2 linked regions of the Homo sapiens genome follow. The protein of the gene in region 2 purifies or fractionates together with the protein of the main gene of each other region. This does not show direct contact. Each region holds a gene or a part of one and is shown on either strand. Other genes may lie near its edges.

What was found. The genes of interacting proteins can lie anywhere in the genome.
Region 1: the proteins of MYH3 (region 2) and ZNRF2 purify together in Homo sapiens (affinity purification with mass spectrometry; one large-scale study listed by BioGRID and IntAct). This does not show direct contact.

What each region holds. Positions count from the first base shown.
Region 1 is NC_000007.14:30,364,547-30,368,292, reverse strand, and holds the end of ZNRF2 (E3 ubiquitin-protein ligase ZNRF2), read right to left. Parts: intron 2,354-3,746; exon of another isoform or gene 2,289-2,353; intron 2,259-2,288; 3' UTR 604-2,258; downstream 1-603. UniProt on the Homo sapiens protein: E3 ubiquitin-protein ligase that plays a role in the establishment and maintenance of neuronal transmission and plasticity. Ubiquitinates the Na(+)/K(+) ATPase alpha-1 subunit/ATP1A1 and thereby influences its endocytosis and/or degradation.
Region 2 is NC_000017.11:10,650,750-10,654,402, reverse strand, and holds part of MYH3 (myosin-3), read left to right. Parts: intron 1-1,839; coding exon 1,840-1,983; intron 1,984-2,734; coding exon 2,735-2,891; intron 2,892-3,653. UniProt on the Homo sapiens protein: Muscle contraction.

The DNA of each region.
Region 1 (3,746 bases), on a different chromosome or scaffold from region 2:
CACTGAACTTTCTTTAAAACCATAGGAGCTTCTATTGTAGCAAATGCAGCACAGAACCTTATGACAAAGAGGGGCTAAAAAGTGAATTTAAGCCAATATAGGTTAAAAAGTAAACAAGTGAACTATTAAATTGGCGCAAAAGTAATAGCAGTTTTTGCAATGACTTTTGCATTAACCTATCAGAAAATCAACTTCCAGGAGAATACAGTTAATCCCCACAGCTGTAATAAATCTCTTCCTTTAAGAATGGAAGACAACAAAATAATTCTCATCACAAGAGTATACCAGCAATAGAAAATGAACCAATTATTCACATTCTAAGAGGTTTTACTTGAGGGGGTTGAGCAGGAGGGTATGAAAGCTTACAAAATCAAAAATGTGAAATAAAATGAAATCAAATTAAGACTTCATGGTAACAGAAAAAAACAGAAAAAGAATCGTTTCCTTAAGGGACGAATATTTTTCATAACTAGTAAAAAAGCACCTATTAAACTGTGCCTTCAGCTGTCACAATGGAGGTTTTGGATTCCTTTAGCAATTGCAGCATAACAAAAGGCATTTCACAGCATAACTTCAGGGAAAATGTTATCTGAGCTGGAATCATACAGAAAGCAATTAAAAACTCTTTAATTATTTATAATACACACATTTTTCTGGGTAGCAGCAGTTGCTCCTGTACTTGCCCTTTTAAAAAATGTGAAACAGAAGCAAGAAAGTAGGGGGAAAAATTTAGAGAAGATTAAGAGTAGCAGCGTTAAATAAAACAGCAAATTCTTAAATACATTATGAGTAAAGAAAGATTAAAATAAGGAAACAGTACTTACTGTGCAACTTTAAATTATACCAAGTAAAGTACACCACCTATTCACTGATAACATTTTCCCTACGTTGAAAACACAAAACCTACTTATCGATATTTTTGATATTAAAAAAAAGGACATTCACTATTGTAGCCCTGACAACTCTTCCAGTATTTTTAACCATTCAGATGTATTATGTGGGAATATTTATTAACATAATTTTGTTTAACACATTTCTTTCTACACAAACTGAATTTAAAAGTGTCTATAACATTTTCAATTACAGTAATAACACATGAATAAATTATAAATTAACAAAATCTTCATATCTACTTTAAAAAATCATTTATCAAATGCTAACCTCCAGATTATCTGGAAAATTAAAGTTGCAAATTGCTATAAACCTGGCATCCCAATTAAATTACAGTTTTTAAAGGTATATAAAATCTCCCTCAAATTCCAAGTTCCTCTCCAGAAAATTTTATTTTACCCTTTTCTTAAGTTTACAGCCTGCTAAACATTTTACCCAAATGTGAGAGAACTGCCTGGAGATGCAAAGCACAATAAAATAATTAAGTGAAAAGAACAAACAAAAGATACCCGTTAAAACAGTTATTTTAGCTGGCAGCACTTGAAATTGGTAATCTGTATTTTTTTTAAATTGCATAGCTGCAAGATGATTCACTGCTGATTAACTGTTGAGCAGTTTTATTTAAGAGGATAAGAATATTTAATAAATTGCAATTCAGTAGAATATTCTATATTTAATTAAAATGTAATTATGTAATATGATTTGCTCTTTGGACTGCATTCTGATATTAAACCTTTAATTTAAAAATATTAACATATTTTAGCTTTCCTATGTAGAAGTCTATTTTCCACTCGTGGGGGAGAAAATGGAAGAACTTGAGATCATGGTCTACATTCAGATGTTTTTACTGCTTGATTACATTTCTTGGTTTCACATTTAAGACTTCAATTTATAAGAAGTAAATTATATGTTTTTCAATTTAAGAACAGATGAATGCAGAAACATTATGAACATTATGTTGGGGAAAACAAAGAGACCCCAAATTAAAAAACAAAACAAATCAAAACATAACTAGTTGTGCAGCTCTGGAGAACTTAATAAAAAGTAAATCAACTTTTAAATCAGTTAACTTTGGCGTCTGAATACAAAATGTTTATCAGTATTACCTATGTAGATGACTATTAAGGGATGTGCAGCATTTTCAAAATCCCTGTGTGTCCTTTGTATGCATGTTTGGTACACTGAGTTCTGTGGTCACTGTCCTCTCTTCAGCAGGGTTTTTTTACCCCAGTACGATTGTCCATCTCTGTATTACCAAGTCTCACAAAACTCAGATTTCTGGCTGAGTATGCCTGCGTCTTTGTTTCTCCAGAGACAGATTTTCATATCCTCTTGGTTTTTCAAGCATCTTGTCAAGACAAGAAAACCTGTGTAAAAATAGATTTCCCCATGAACATTGCTTTAGTTACTGTAAGTCTTCATACCCTTACTTACTATTCTGAAAACTCATAAAATCAGTGATCTGGAGAAGAACAGATTAAGAAACAGAAGGATCAATTAAAGTTTAGTCACAAAAAATACATAACAAAGTCATCCCCCTTTCACAATAAGGACTACACGCAAGTAAAGAATGCACACACACGGAGATTTAAAATATTTCTCCCAAATAACTAAAAACCCCAAAATAAGTACAGCAATTTTCTAACTAATCAAGACCACAAATATTCATGTCTCTCTATTTTGGGTTGATTATTAAATTCTTATGCTGAAGGATATCAGAAACGTTGAGCTTTATGGCTACACAGTGCCTTACAAAATGTTTTAACAACACTGAATCCTCCTCAAACCCATATACCTTTAATCTAGGACTATTAAAAGGTATACAAGAATTTATCACTTGATAAATAAGAACAGTCAGGACAGAAGCAAAAATGTACAAGTCAAGATATTCCATGTCTATAAACTCTTAAAAATGACTCTTCAAGACCCACAGAAGCAGACTCCATTGGTTCAGATTTCTGTAGACACCTGATTAACAGAGTTCACCCTGCCCATGTAGTAGGCTAGTTTCAAATTCAGGTTCTATATTCGAAAACAAACAAATAAGCAAATATAACACTCATATGTAACATAAGAAAATGGAAATGTTGTTGAAGACCAACAGACATATGCATTTCAGCTATGAGATGAGATGTATGCTCCACATATCCCATAAGCTCACTGTGACACTAAAGGAAAAATTTAGCTGATGAAAGAAAAAAAATTTATACAATATAATTCCACCTCACCAAAAAAAAAAAAAAAAAAAAAAAAAGCTTATCAGCTCTATGGTCTAAATGTTTGTGTACTCCCAAAATTGCTATGTTAAAACCTAATCTGCAGTGCTATAGTATTAAGAGGTGGGGCCTTTGGGACATGATTAGGTGATGAGGGCTCTGACCACATGAATGCAGTTAGTATCCTTATAGAAGCTTGAGGGAGTCTGTTATCCCACCACGTGAGGACACACAGAAGGTGCCATAAATGAGCAATGAGCCCTCATCAGACACCAGATCTACTGGCTGGAACCTTGATCTTAGACTTCCCAGCTTCCAGAACTGTGAGCACTAAATTTCTGTCATGTATAAATTACTCATCTAAGGTATTTTGTTATAGCAGCCCAAAATGCACTAAGAAAGACTAAAAAGACAAATTTTATCTATAGATGAAGGATTTAGATGTATTACTTTGGCATGTAAAATACTAAGACAAAAATTTCATTTTGTTAGCATCAGTTTCAGTACTTCCCTTAAAATGCTTCTATAATTTTAGCCACAGTTTCGTTTTGTCTCAAACATAAGGTGACAATGAAGGCATTCCAAACCTTTTCTATGGTGAAATAAAAACATATGTGCACATATATTCAAAATACCACT
Region 2 (3,653 bases):
CCTTGTATCATGAAGGGGATGAGCACTGCAGCCCATTACATTCTGGCCCAAGCCACTGTGGGGGTGCTGCGAGGAATTCTGGAGCTCACTAGTTTCTAAAATCCACATCAGGAGAATCTGGAAAAGTCCCAAGAAAAGTAAAAAGCAAAAAAAGGAAAAAAGAAAGAAAGAGTGAAAGAGAGATGGAGGGAAGGAAGGAAGGAAAGAAAGAAGGAAGAAAGAAAGCAAGGAAGGAAGGAAAGAAAGAAAGAGAAAGAAAGAAAGAAAATAAAAGAGACAAGTAAAGGAAATACTATCATTGGGTTGGGCATGAAGGAAAAAAGGCATTAAAAACCGCCCTGCACGTGAACCCGGGAGGTGGAGCTTGCAGTGAGCCTAGATCACGCCACTGCACTCCAGCCTGGGAGACAGAGCAAGACTCGGTCCCCCCAAAAAATAAGAACCGCCCTGCAGTGCTACCAAGCATTGGAGCTCCGAAAAGGTGGCTCTCTGTGTATTTCCAATAAGGAGCTAAGAATGGGCTGCTAACACGTCAGGGAAGGAGGAAGCTAGATACAGTGAATGATAATCTAAGATGAACCTAAGAGACCATCATAGACAGCCAGGGCCCATTGGCCGGGATGGTTTGAATGAATCCCTGCTTGAAGGCAGGGAAAAGGCAGGTTTCCCATCCACACTGCCCAGAGACAGAACCAGGAAAACTGACCATTTCAGAGGAGGTCACAGAGAAAAAGGAGGTGAGGACAGGGCAGGGAAGAGGAAGACAAGTTCCCCACCCCCTGTGCCTGAGGTCCTCCAGCTTCCCGAGGGTGTGGGGGTTTGTCCTGCTGAGAGAAGTGCAGGTGCTCAGAACCACTGCTCTGCCTCATGGTGCCGTTTGCCTGGCTTATAACACTCTGACCCCAGAAAGGGCAGGAAAGGGGTGGGGAGGGCAACTGAGGGGCCCTTTCCTGAGCATGCTGGGGCTGGGTGGTGAAGGGGGAAGAGGTGGGCCGGGGGCTGGACAGCTGCTTTCAGAGAGCTCAGAATGTTGGCAATCCATGGGCACCAGCCTGGCAATCCAATGCCCCTTCCTCATTCTCTTCGGTCCCTGCCTCACGACTGCAGGGGACATATGCGTCATTTTCTCTCAGTAGACAGGAAAGAGCCAGCTGCTGGAGCTGGATTTTGGTCCAGGCAGTGTTACTGACTGAGCTGAAAGGTTCCTGCTGGCCCCGTTCCCAGCCACCATCACCCATATCCACCCACACAGATCCTCTTTTCTCATTTCCGACATCCGTCTCTCACCTCAGGCCCAATGGGGAGGAAGAAGACACCCTGAATAACAGAAACAAACCCCATTTCATCAGCACCACCACAAGCCGCCCCATAGCCTTTCCTCCTCTCGCTGTGAGCTGGGCTTGTTCTAGGGTTTGGCCCTTCCATCTCGGCTCAAGAGTCTCTTGGTCTTTTGGTGGGGGCAGCAGACAAGACGTGCAGACAGGCCAGGCACGGTGCCTCACACCTGTAATCCCAGCACTTTGGGAGGCTGAGGCGGGTGGATCACGAGGTCAGGAGATCGAGACCATCCTGGCTAACACGGTGAAACCCCGTCTCTACTAAAAATAAAAAAAATTAGCCGGGTGTGGTGGCGGGCGCCTGTAATCCCAGCTACTTGGGAGGCTGAGGCAGAAGAATGGTGTGAACCCGGGAGGTGGAGCTTGCAGTGAGCCGAGATCGCATCACTGCACTCCAGCCTGGGCGACAAAGCAAGACTCCGTCTCAAAAAAAAAAAAAAAAAAAAAAAAAAAAAAGACGTGCAGACCATCTTAGTGAAGCACTGTGCCTCTTCCTTTTTAGACCCTGGTGGTCAAACCAGAGGATGTGTACGCCATGAACCCCCCCAAGTTCGACAGGATCGAAGACATGGCCATGCTGACGCACCTGAATGAGCCAGCCGTGCTGTACAACCTGAAGGACCGTTACACATCTTGGATGATCTATGTCAGCGAGGGCTTTCGACGTGGTTTCCCTGGGGCATTAGATATGCGGGCAGGGGAGGGAGGCAGAGGTATGTGTGTGGGCCGTGGGATTCTGGAAGATGAGTGCTTGCCTAGCTGATGAACAAAACACAAAGACGGAGGAGAAAGAAGGCAAGAAAGCAAGAGGTGGATGGGGCAGGAAGAAGGAAGGTGGGAAGGAGGACCAGGAGCCGGAGAGCGGGGAAGCTGGGGCCAGGCTTGGTCACGGGGTGCTGTGACTTACCAACTGTGGGAGGGTCGCCACTCCCCTTTTTGAGTCTCAGTGCCTCACTATAAATAGGAATGGTAGCCTCCCCCCTTTATAAGTTTATCCCAAAGAAACATGAGATAATAATAAAGGCAGCTGGGTGTGGTGGCTCACGCCCGTAATCCCAGCACTTTGGGAGGGTAAGGCGGGTGGATCATGAGGTCAAGAGATCGAGACCATTCTGGCCAACATGGTGAAGCCCCATCTCTACTAAAATACAAAAATTAGCCGGGCGTGATGGCATGTACCTGTAGTCCCAGCTACTCGGGAGGCTGAGGCAGGAGAATTGCTTGAACCCGGGAGGTGGAGGTTGCAGTGAGCCAAGATCGTGCCACTGCACTCCAGCCTGGTGACAGAGTGAGACTCCGTCTCAAAAAAAAAAAAAAACAATAATAATAATAAAGGCAAGGGGTTTTCCATATGCACATACATACATATACGCACGTATATGTTTTTCCTCCCACAGACCTACTCAGGCCTCTTCTGTGTCACTGTCAACCCCTACAAGTGGCTGCCGGTGTACAACCCCGAGGTGGTGGAAGGCTACCGAGGCAAAAAGCGCCAGGAGGCCCCACCCCACATCTTCTCCATCTCTGACAACGCCTATCAGTTCATGCTGACTGGTGAGTTTCCCAGGAGGAAGCATGGGATGCTGGAGCAGGCACTGCATGAGGCGAGCGGCAGTTGCCCCTTACTCCCAGGCTGGACCCCATCTGGTGTTTAGCACAGGGAAAGGAGGAAGAAGGAGCCAAAAGAGGCAGAAAGGGGCTGCATCATGTAGGGCCCCGCATGCCAAGGTGACGAGTTTTGGATTTAATGCAAGTTAGAATATGCAAAACGGATATGGATGTTTTCATGGATCAAAACCAAAAACTGATCATTTTATATAGTTCAGCCTAATACAGCAAGAACGATGAGAAGCCACTGGCTGGTTTTTTTTTTTTTTTTTTGAGATGGAGTCTTGCTATGTTGCCCAGGCTGGAGTGCAGTGGTGTGATCTCGGCTCACCACAACCTCTGCCTCCCGGGTTCAAGCGATTCTCCTGCCTCAGCCTCCCGAGTAGCTGCGACTACAGGTATGCACCACCATGTCCGGCTATTTTTATATTTTTAATAGAGACAGGGGTCACTTTGTTGGCCAGGCTGGTCTCAAACTCCTGACCTCGTGATCTGCCTGCCACAGCCTCCCAAAGTGCTGGGATTACAGGCATGAGCCACTGCACCCGGCTGCCACTGGCTGATTCTGAGTGGAGACTTGCCCTCTCTGAGTCTCAGTCTCAAGAAGGAGGCTTTCGATATTGACCAAAGGATACAGCTGGAAAGGAGAAATCGGTGCTGGTGATCTGTCCCATAGAATGGTGACTCCGATAAGTAATAATGCATTGT